2 linked regions of the Homo sapiens genome follow. The protein of the gene in region 1 interacts with the protein of each later gene in a biochemical or structural test. Each region holds a gene or a part of one and is shown on either strand. Other genes may lie near its edges.

Evidence for each region. The genes of interacting proteins can lie anywhere in the genome.
Region 2: the proteins of BTRC (region 1) and GLI2 form a complex in vitro, tested with the Homo sapiens proteins (one study listed by BioGRID).

The regions. Positions count from the first base shown.
Region 1 is NC_000010.11:101,357,158-101,361,009, reverse strand, and holds part of BTRC (F-box/WD repeat-containing protein 1A), read right to left. Parts: intron 1-3,852. UniProt on the Homo sapiens protein: Substrate recognition component of a SCF (SKP1-CUL1-F-box protein) E3 ubiquitin-protein ligase complex which mediates the ubiquitination and subsequent proteasomal degradation of target proteins. Recognizes and binds to phosphorylated target proteins.
Region 2 is NC_000002.12:120,738,585-120,742,436, forward strand, and holds part of GLI2 (zinc finger protein GLI2), read left to right. Parts: intron 1-3,852. UniProt on the Homo sapiens protein: Functions as a transcription regulator in the hedgehog (Hh) pathway. Functions as a transcriptional activator. May also function as transcriptional repressor. Requires STK36 for full transcriptional activator activity.

The DNA.
Region 1 (3,852 bases):
ACACAGCAAGACCCCATCTCTACAAAAAAATAAAAATATAGCCAGGTGTGGTGGCACAAACCTGTAGTCCCAGCTACTCAGGAGGCTGAGGCAGAGGCATTGCTTCAGCCCAGGAGTTTGAGGCTGCAGGGAGCTCAGCCTACTGATGGCAGAGCTGCGCCCAAATAAAATAAAATACTGCTAGAAAGTAGGTGAGATTTAAAAAGTATTTTAGGCTGCGAGTGGTGGCACGCACCTGTAGTCCCAGCTACTGGAGAGGCCGAGGCACAAAGATCACTTAACCCTAGCCTGAGTTCAAGGCCAACCTGGCAACAGAGCAAGCAAGATCCCATCTCTAGAGGCCAGACGCGGTAGCTAATGCCTATAATCCCAGCACTTTGGGAGGCCGAGGCGGTCGGATCACCTGAGGTCAGGAGTTCAAGAATAGCCTGGCCAACATGGTGAAACCCCGTCTACAAAAATACAAAAATTAGTCAGGGATGATGGCAGGTGCCTGTAATCCCAGCTACTTAGGAGGCTGAGACAGGAGAATTGCCTGAACCTGGGAAGCGGAGGTTGCAGTGAGTTGAGATCGTGCCATTGCACTCCAGCCTGGGTGACAGAGCAAGACTCCATCTCAAAAAAAAAAAAAAAAAAAAAGCAGATCCCATCTCTAGGCCAGGCATAGTGACTCACGCCTGTAATCCCAGCACTTTGGGAGGCCAAGGTGGGCGGATCACTTGAAGTCAGGAGTTCGAGACCAGCCCGGGCAACACGGTGAAACCCTGTCTCTACTAAAAACACAAAATTTAGCTGGGCGTGGTGGCACATGCCTGTATTCCCAGCTACCTGGGAGGCTGAGGCACAAGAATTGCTTGAACCCAGGAGGTAGGGGCTGCAGTGAGCCAAGGTTGCACCACTGTACTCCAGCCTGGGTGACAGAGTGAGACCCTGTCTCAATTAAGTTTTTTTAAAAAAAAGAGATCTCTTTTGAAAGTTTATTTTCTAATTTAGCAATAAATAATTTCTAAAACTACTCAAAGTTGAATTTTTACTCCACATCTAATAATTCACTTTTGATAATTTATGAAAATCTACTATAAACATAAATTTAGAAAATTAGCAAAAAGAGGCCGGACACGGCAGCTCACGCCTGTAATCTCAGCACTTTGGGAGGCCAAGGCGGGCAGATCACCTGAGGTTGGGAGTTCGAGACCAGCCTGACCAACATGGAAAAGCCCTGTCTCTACCAAAAATACAAAATTAGCTGGGTGTGGTGGTGCATGCCTGTAATCCCAGCTACAGGGGAGGCTGAGGAAGGAGAATCACTTGAACCTCAGAAGCAGAGGTTGCAGTGAACTGAGTTTGCACCATTGCACTCCAGCCTGGGCAACAAGACCAAAACTCCATCTCAAAAAAAAAAAAATACAACAAAATTAGCCAGGCAAGGTGGTACACGCCTGTAATTCCAGCTACTTAGGAGGCTGAGGCAGGAGAATCATTTGAACCCAGGAGGCGGAGGTTGCAGTGAACCGAAATTGTGCCACTGCACTCCAGTCTGGGCAACAGAGCGAGACTCAGGGTATCTCAGACAAAAAAAAAGAAAATAGGCAAAAAGAATTACCACTAATTTCATACCCCAACACCTATAAGAGTACCCAGAAAACAAACTGTTTGAAAGCCAATTTAAACTGGGAATAGGTAAAGTATACACAAAAACTCAGACAACTTAAACTAAGAACTAGTTTCAGATGTTCATCCCACTACCTGGTAATCAATTTCACTGATGTAAAGAAAATTCCATTACAGTGAAACATCTGACAATTTATTTTAAAATGTAATCTGTTTAGATACCTCTGTTTCCTGAAGTAAGTAAGCAAGTTTACTTAATCACATTAATTCACCCAGTATTATGTCAACAGTGACATCATTAAGGGAAGTCACGCAGGAGATCATGTTAGTGCCTTCCGAAGTTAACCTCAAAAAAAGAGATGCCTCCTAAACATTCCTAGCATTATGACCCACAAACTTGGCCGATACCATTTTTATTTTTAGCCTTAACATCCAACTAGCATAGCACCTACGGTAGCAAGTCTCAAAAGGTGGCCCCCAGCAATTCCCCCTTCCTTGTTTATGCACGCCACCCTTCCTATCAATAGGTAGACATTATTTCTCCTCCCTCTGTAGTTGGCCTTGACTGGCTTTGACCCACAGTGACATTCTTGGACTTCCAAATCTAGGATTTAGAAGACTGGCAGTCTCTACCTCCTGTCTCCTGGAATGTCCCTTCTTAGAACCTTGCCACCACACTTTAAGGAAATCCAAGCAGCCAGGTAGAGAAAGGCCCATATAGAGGAGAAGTGAAGGTCTTTCCCACACCTCAGCCAATACCAAGTGAAGCAGAAAAACCATCAGATTTGAGGGGAAAAATAATTGTTTTTTTTAAGCTAAGTTTTGAGGTTGTCTGTTAAACAGCAAATATTTACCCTTTATACTGTTTCATTTATCTATCAGCTCTATAAATAAAACAATACATTCTAAAATTATTTCATCTATTTCAAGCTACTGTACTTGATTCTGGGATTGGCTGGACAAGAATATATTTATCCTGTTTTTAAAAATAAACGTGGCTTGGCAAGGTGGCTCACGCCTGTAATCCCAACAATGGGAGGCCAAGGCAGGAGGACCCCTTGAGCCCAGGAGTTCAAAAACCACCCCTGTCAACAAAGGGCGACCCTTGTCTCTACAAAAACAAAAAAGAAAAAAAAAATAGCCAGCATAGTGGTGTGTGCCTGTAGCCACTTGAGACGCCGAGGCAGGAGGATCATGTGAGCCTGGGAGTTTGAGGCTGCAGCAAGCTATGACTGCACTCTAGCCTGGGCAACATAGTGAGACCCTGTCTCAAAGGTGAAAACAAAAATAAAGTTCAAATTCCTCCTCAGTATGTCTTTTCAACCCCTATCTTAAACGTGCTTGTGTGTGTGTGTTTGTGTGTTTTGGGGTCTATATTCCCTCAATCATTTTCATTTCTCTTCTTAGGTTCTCTTCAAGTTTCCATTTATACTTTTGTTAACCAAAAAAGTATTAAGAAAGGTCCTTGAGGACCTGCTAAAGCTGAATGAGAGACATTAGCACGTAAGTTAATGTAAACCGTTGCTTTCAATATCATTTATTTGTTTTTAAAAGTTAAACATTCTGCTTAAACTTTTTTCACAAGTAAAACAATAAGCTTTAAGTCTCGATCACGTGTGAATTATGGTCATCTCTGAATCAGCAGTCTTATTAACAGGATTTTATTGTAAAATTCTTTATCAAGGCACTTTAGTATAGCAATGAGCAAATTTGTGAGAGTATCCATTTCATTCTGGCATTTTAAACTAATTTTACATTTGTTTAAACCATGGAAATCATGACATCTGTATAAAAGTTGTCATTAGCGATTCACAATTGAGGGAAAGGTTAAGACCAGAACAAAGCCAAATAGTAATAAAAATGCCCGTTTGATTAAAAGGATAGTTCTTCCATGTGTACTGTGCACTAATTATTTGATGCTAGCTCAAATAGCTTCCTTTTTTTTTTTTTTTTTTTTTGAGACAGAGTCTCGCTCTGTCACCCAGGCTGGAGTGTAATGGCACGATCTCAGCTCACTGCAACCTCCACCTCCTGGGTTCAAGTGATTCTACTGCCTCAGCCTCCCGAGTAGCTGGGACTACAGGTGCGCGCCACCAGGCCTGGCTAATTTTTGTATTTTTAGTAGAGACAGGGTTTCACCATGTTGGCCAGGATGGTCTCAATCTCCTGACCTCGTGTTCCGCCCGCCTCAGCCTCCCAAAGTGCTGGGATTACAGGCATGAGCCACCACGCCTGGCCAAT
Region 2 (3,852 bases), on another chromosome or scaffold:
GGTGAACCAGCCTTCAGTTGGGCTAGCATCTGAGTGAGAGACTGTGGTCAGAACGGTCTATTTGCAAAGCCTCTTGGAGAGAATTAGAATTATAGGTAGAAAGAATTAGAATGATAGTAGAAAGAGCCTCCCAAGCCACCGAGGAACAAGGTAAGACTGCTAGAGATGGTTTTATCCTCTGTGGGAATCGATTTGACTGAATTTGCAGTGGGTTCAGATTCCTTCAGCAGAGACTTCCGGGCTGCTCCCAAACTCATTCTGCTCTGGCCTTGAAGGGGACTCTTGACTCGTGGCTTCCTTGAAGCTTGTGTGGAGTTAGCGAGGCCCTTGTGGCCAGGCAGCCTTGGAGTGGAGTGCCACTTCACTCTCCCAGGGATGCTCTGGTCCACTGGTGGAGAGAGCACCGAATGCAGAGTCAATCCTTTGAGTTGCTTGGTCAGAAGAGGGGGCCGCAGGGCTTCTGGTCAGTGGCTCATTGCCTGGCTGCGGGGGTCTTGGGGGCTGTGTACTGTAGCTGGCTTGTTTGCACTGCAGACTGAAAAATACACAAATACTTCACGCTTTTTGTACTCCCACAAGTGCCCTGTACACAGTGCAGCCCCTGGGGCTGGATTAGCAAACCAGGGATTCAGCAGGCAGGCAGACAAAATTGGATATTTGCCTAATAAACACCCTTCTTCCATTGTCCCCCACCCCTGCCCCGGGGGTACTCCACGGGAAAACTTCACTCCACAGATGCCAGCAGTTCCCTTTAAATGGGAGTAGGAGGTTGTCATGTGCACTTTGAAAGCTTGTGTGACCCCCTCACACCCAGCTGGCTTGTTAAAGCCTAGAATCGGAGTCCTACATCCTTGTGTACTCTTTGGGTAGGGCAGCTGGCCTTTTCCTGGGGAAAGTGTGTTTAGCCCAGCTTCCTTTCATCTGCATGGCTCTTGCGGCAGGGAGGTGGAGCAAACCAGCCTTGCTTCTTGGAGGCTGTGGGGAGGAGAAAGGGGTTCTACCTGGGCCAGAGCCTGTTTCCTAGTGGACAAGGGGCAGCCAGGCCAGGTGGACCTCGCTGTGGACAGCTGCAGCTGTTCCCGCTGGGCCAGGGCCCTTTGAAAAGGAACCCGGGGGAGCACTTCCCCCCTTTCTTCTTTTCACTAAGTGTCAGAGGCATGGACAAGTGAAACACGTGAAGAATGCCAAAGAGAGAAACAGTGTTTTCAGATTCCAGAAAATTCAGAGGCAGAATAGGTGATTGTACCAACAACCAGAATGTACAGTGATTTCAGTTGCTCCTGAAATTGCTCCTGCACTTCTAAAGAAATCGGGGAGGAAAAACTGCTCTCTAATTGTTTCCTCAGGCTTGTTTAACAGATTTGAGAAAGGGTCATCCGACATTGATGTTTGAGAGTGTCCTTTGAAAAAGAGTGGCACCTTCAACACTTTTCTGGTTTTCAAATAAACACACAACACCGGATTCAACATTAATCATTTTCTCTGAAATTAATTTGAGGGTTTGCTGTGGAATATCAAGAATTAAAAAAAAAATCATTGATTATTATTTTTAGGTTTAGAGGATGACAAAAGCATCCTTAACCCACAAAACTGTATTTAAAACCTGGGAAAATGCACAGATGATAACGGTATACTTTCTGTGCATTTAATATCTTATTTTCCCCCAATTCTTTCATCAGCACAGTAATTCTCAATAATCCTGTTTGTGTTGTTTCTGGTTTCTTAAAAAACATACACATGGGGGAAAGTAACTCATTTAAGATGTGACCAAAGAGTACTTATTAAACTGTTTTGGGGATTTGGGTTTAAATTGAATAATGTTTTGTGTGTGTGCTTGCACATGTGTGTTGTTTAAAAAAAAAAAAACAGGTTGCTGGGAAGTGTGTTTTAACTGTGAGTGCCGGGTTTCAGCTATTAGCATAAGAAAAAAAGTTTTAGTGCGTTTGCCATTGTCTTGAATGAAGAGTTCAGCAAAGGGAAGGAAAGCCGCAAAAGGGTGATGGTCCATTGAGATTCTTCTGCAGCCCCGAGCTCGTCATCTGCCTCTGAAATCTGTGATCGGATATCACTTTTATCTCGCTTTTCCATTCTCTGGCCTTTTTCACACGTTCACTTTTGTCAAGGTTTATTGATTATGTTTTCTTCTCTACAAATCTGTGGAAAATTTAATGAACCAAAAACAGCAGTGAAATAAAGGGGACTTTTTATTCATTAGCACGGGATTGGGATTGATTCCCTCTTTGGGCAGCCGAGGGCCCCAGGCCTCCTGCAGGCAGCTAGAGGGAGGAGGGAGGGTGGCCCGGCTGCAGGCTGAGGCGGGGACTCCACAGGCCTGTGGCCTCCAGGCTGAGCAGCACGGGCGCAGCCCTGCACTCCTGTCCCAAGTGAACTCTGAAAGCTTGTCCGCGATGGCTGTGCCGGTTGAGCCTGTATGCAACCACGCCGCAGCCCTTACCCGCCATGTCCTCCTGGGTCCTGGCTCAGTGGGCTTGGGGGAGGTGGGGCGGGGGGTGTTGTTTGTATTTCCCAGACTTACAAACCATTTGAGTGCTGGGCCTTCCCTGGGACACAGTTAAGTATCTCCCTTCCTCCAGACCCAGCCCAAACCTGTAATTAAGCAAAGCCCCTGATGTGATTACGCTTTGCTGACTCGGCTGGGTTTGGAGCCATTCCCTCTAGGAAACAGGGTGAACTCTTGCTCTTCCCAGAGGTTTCCTGGGCAGCTTGTGGTGCACCTCTATTGTACACATGTCCGCCTGTCCCCCTCCTTTGGCTCTCTTCCTCTCCCTTCAGCTATCCGTCCGTCCTTTCTGTCTTTTTCTTTCTCCTTCCCCTTTCTCTCTCTTCTGTCCTGCCCCCACCCCCTCTTCTCTCTGGGTCTCTCCTTTCTCTCCCTCTCCGTTCTCTCTCCCCTTCTCCTTTCTTCTCTTTCCCTCCGTTTCCCCCTCCTCCGTTTCCTCCGCCTTCTCTCTCCCTCTCTTTTCTGTCTTTTCTCATCTTTTCCCATCTTTCCCTCCCGTTCCCTCCGCCTCCTCCCCGCCCCCGCCGTCTGGACCTTCCTCTCCCTCCGCGCCGGCTTTTCCGCCACGCGGAGCGCTGGCTGGCGAGGCCGCGTGTCCGAGCGGCGCCGACCGTGCCGCGGCCGGGGGACATTCCGTGCCCCGAGCGCCCCGGGCCCGCGGCTGCGGCCCTCCCACCTGCGCGCCGGCCTGGTTTGCAGCTCCCAAACAATGGCCACATTGTCGCAGCCGCACACCGGCCGCCGCCGGCGAGTGGCGGGAGGCCGGACTCTGCTCGTGGCGAGTCGGGAAGAAAGCCAACGGGCCAGGTCCCCACAGCCGCGCCCGGAGCGCGCGAGCGGCTCCCACCCGGGAAGGGCGCGGGTTCCGAGGGGCGCCCCGGGTCTTCCTCGACCCCGTTTCCCATTGGCCTGCCCTCTTGCCCGCTTCCCCAGGAGGGGCTTCCAGTTGCCTTTACAGCTGGCGAAGTGAATGAGAGCACTCCACGGGAGCCGGGAAGAGAGAGGCCCCGTGACCAAACTTTTGGTGGCGTCTGAAACTTTTTCTGTAAGGCATCTGCAGACAGTAATCACTAAGGCCGCCTTCTGCCCTTGTCCACTCCCGGCGACAGGAAAGGAAGGGCGGTCCTCTCTTCCATTCGTCTTGACCTGTAGGGATTCGAAACCTCTTAGCGCTCAGAAAAAAGATCTTTGAATGCCTGATGTTAAAAGAGCGTCCCTGGGTCCAAGATAGCCCCTTCAGCAGACGCTTAGCAATGCTTCTTTGTGTGCTGGACAATGCAGTAAGTCAGCCAGACTTTTGAGCCACATTTATAAGGAACTGTAAGGGCCGC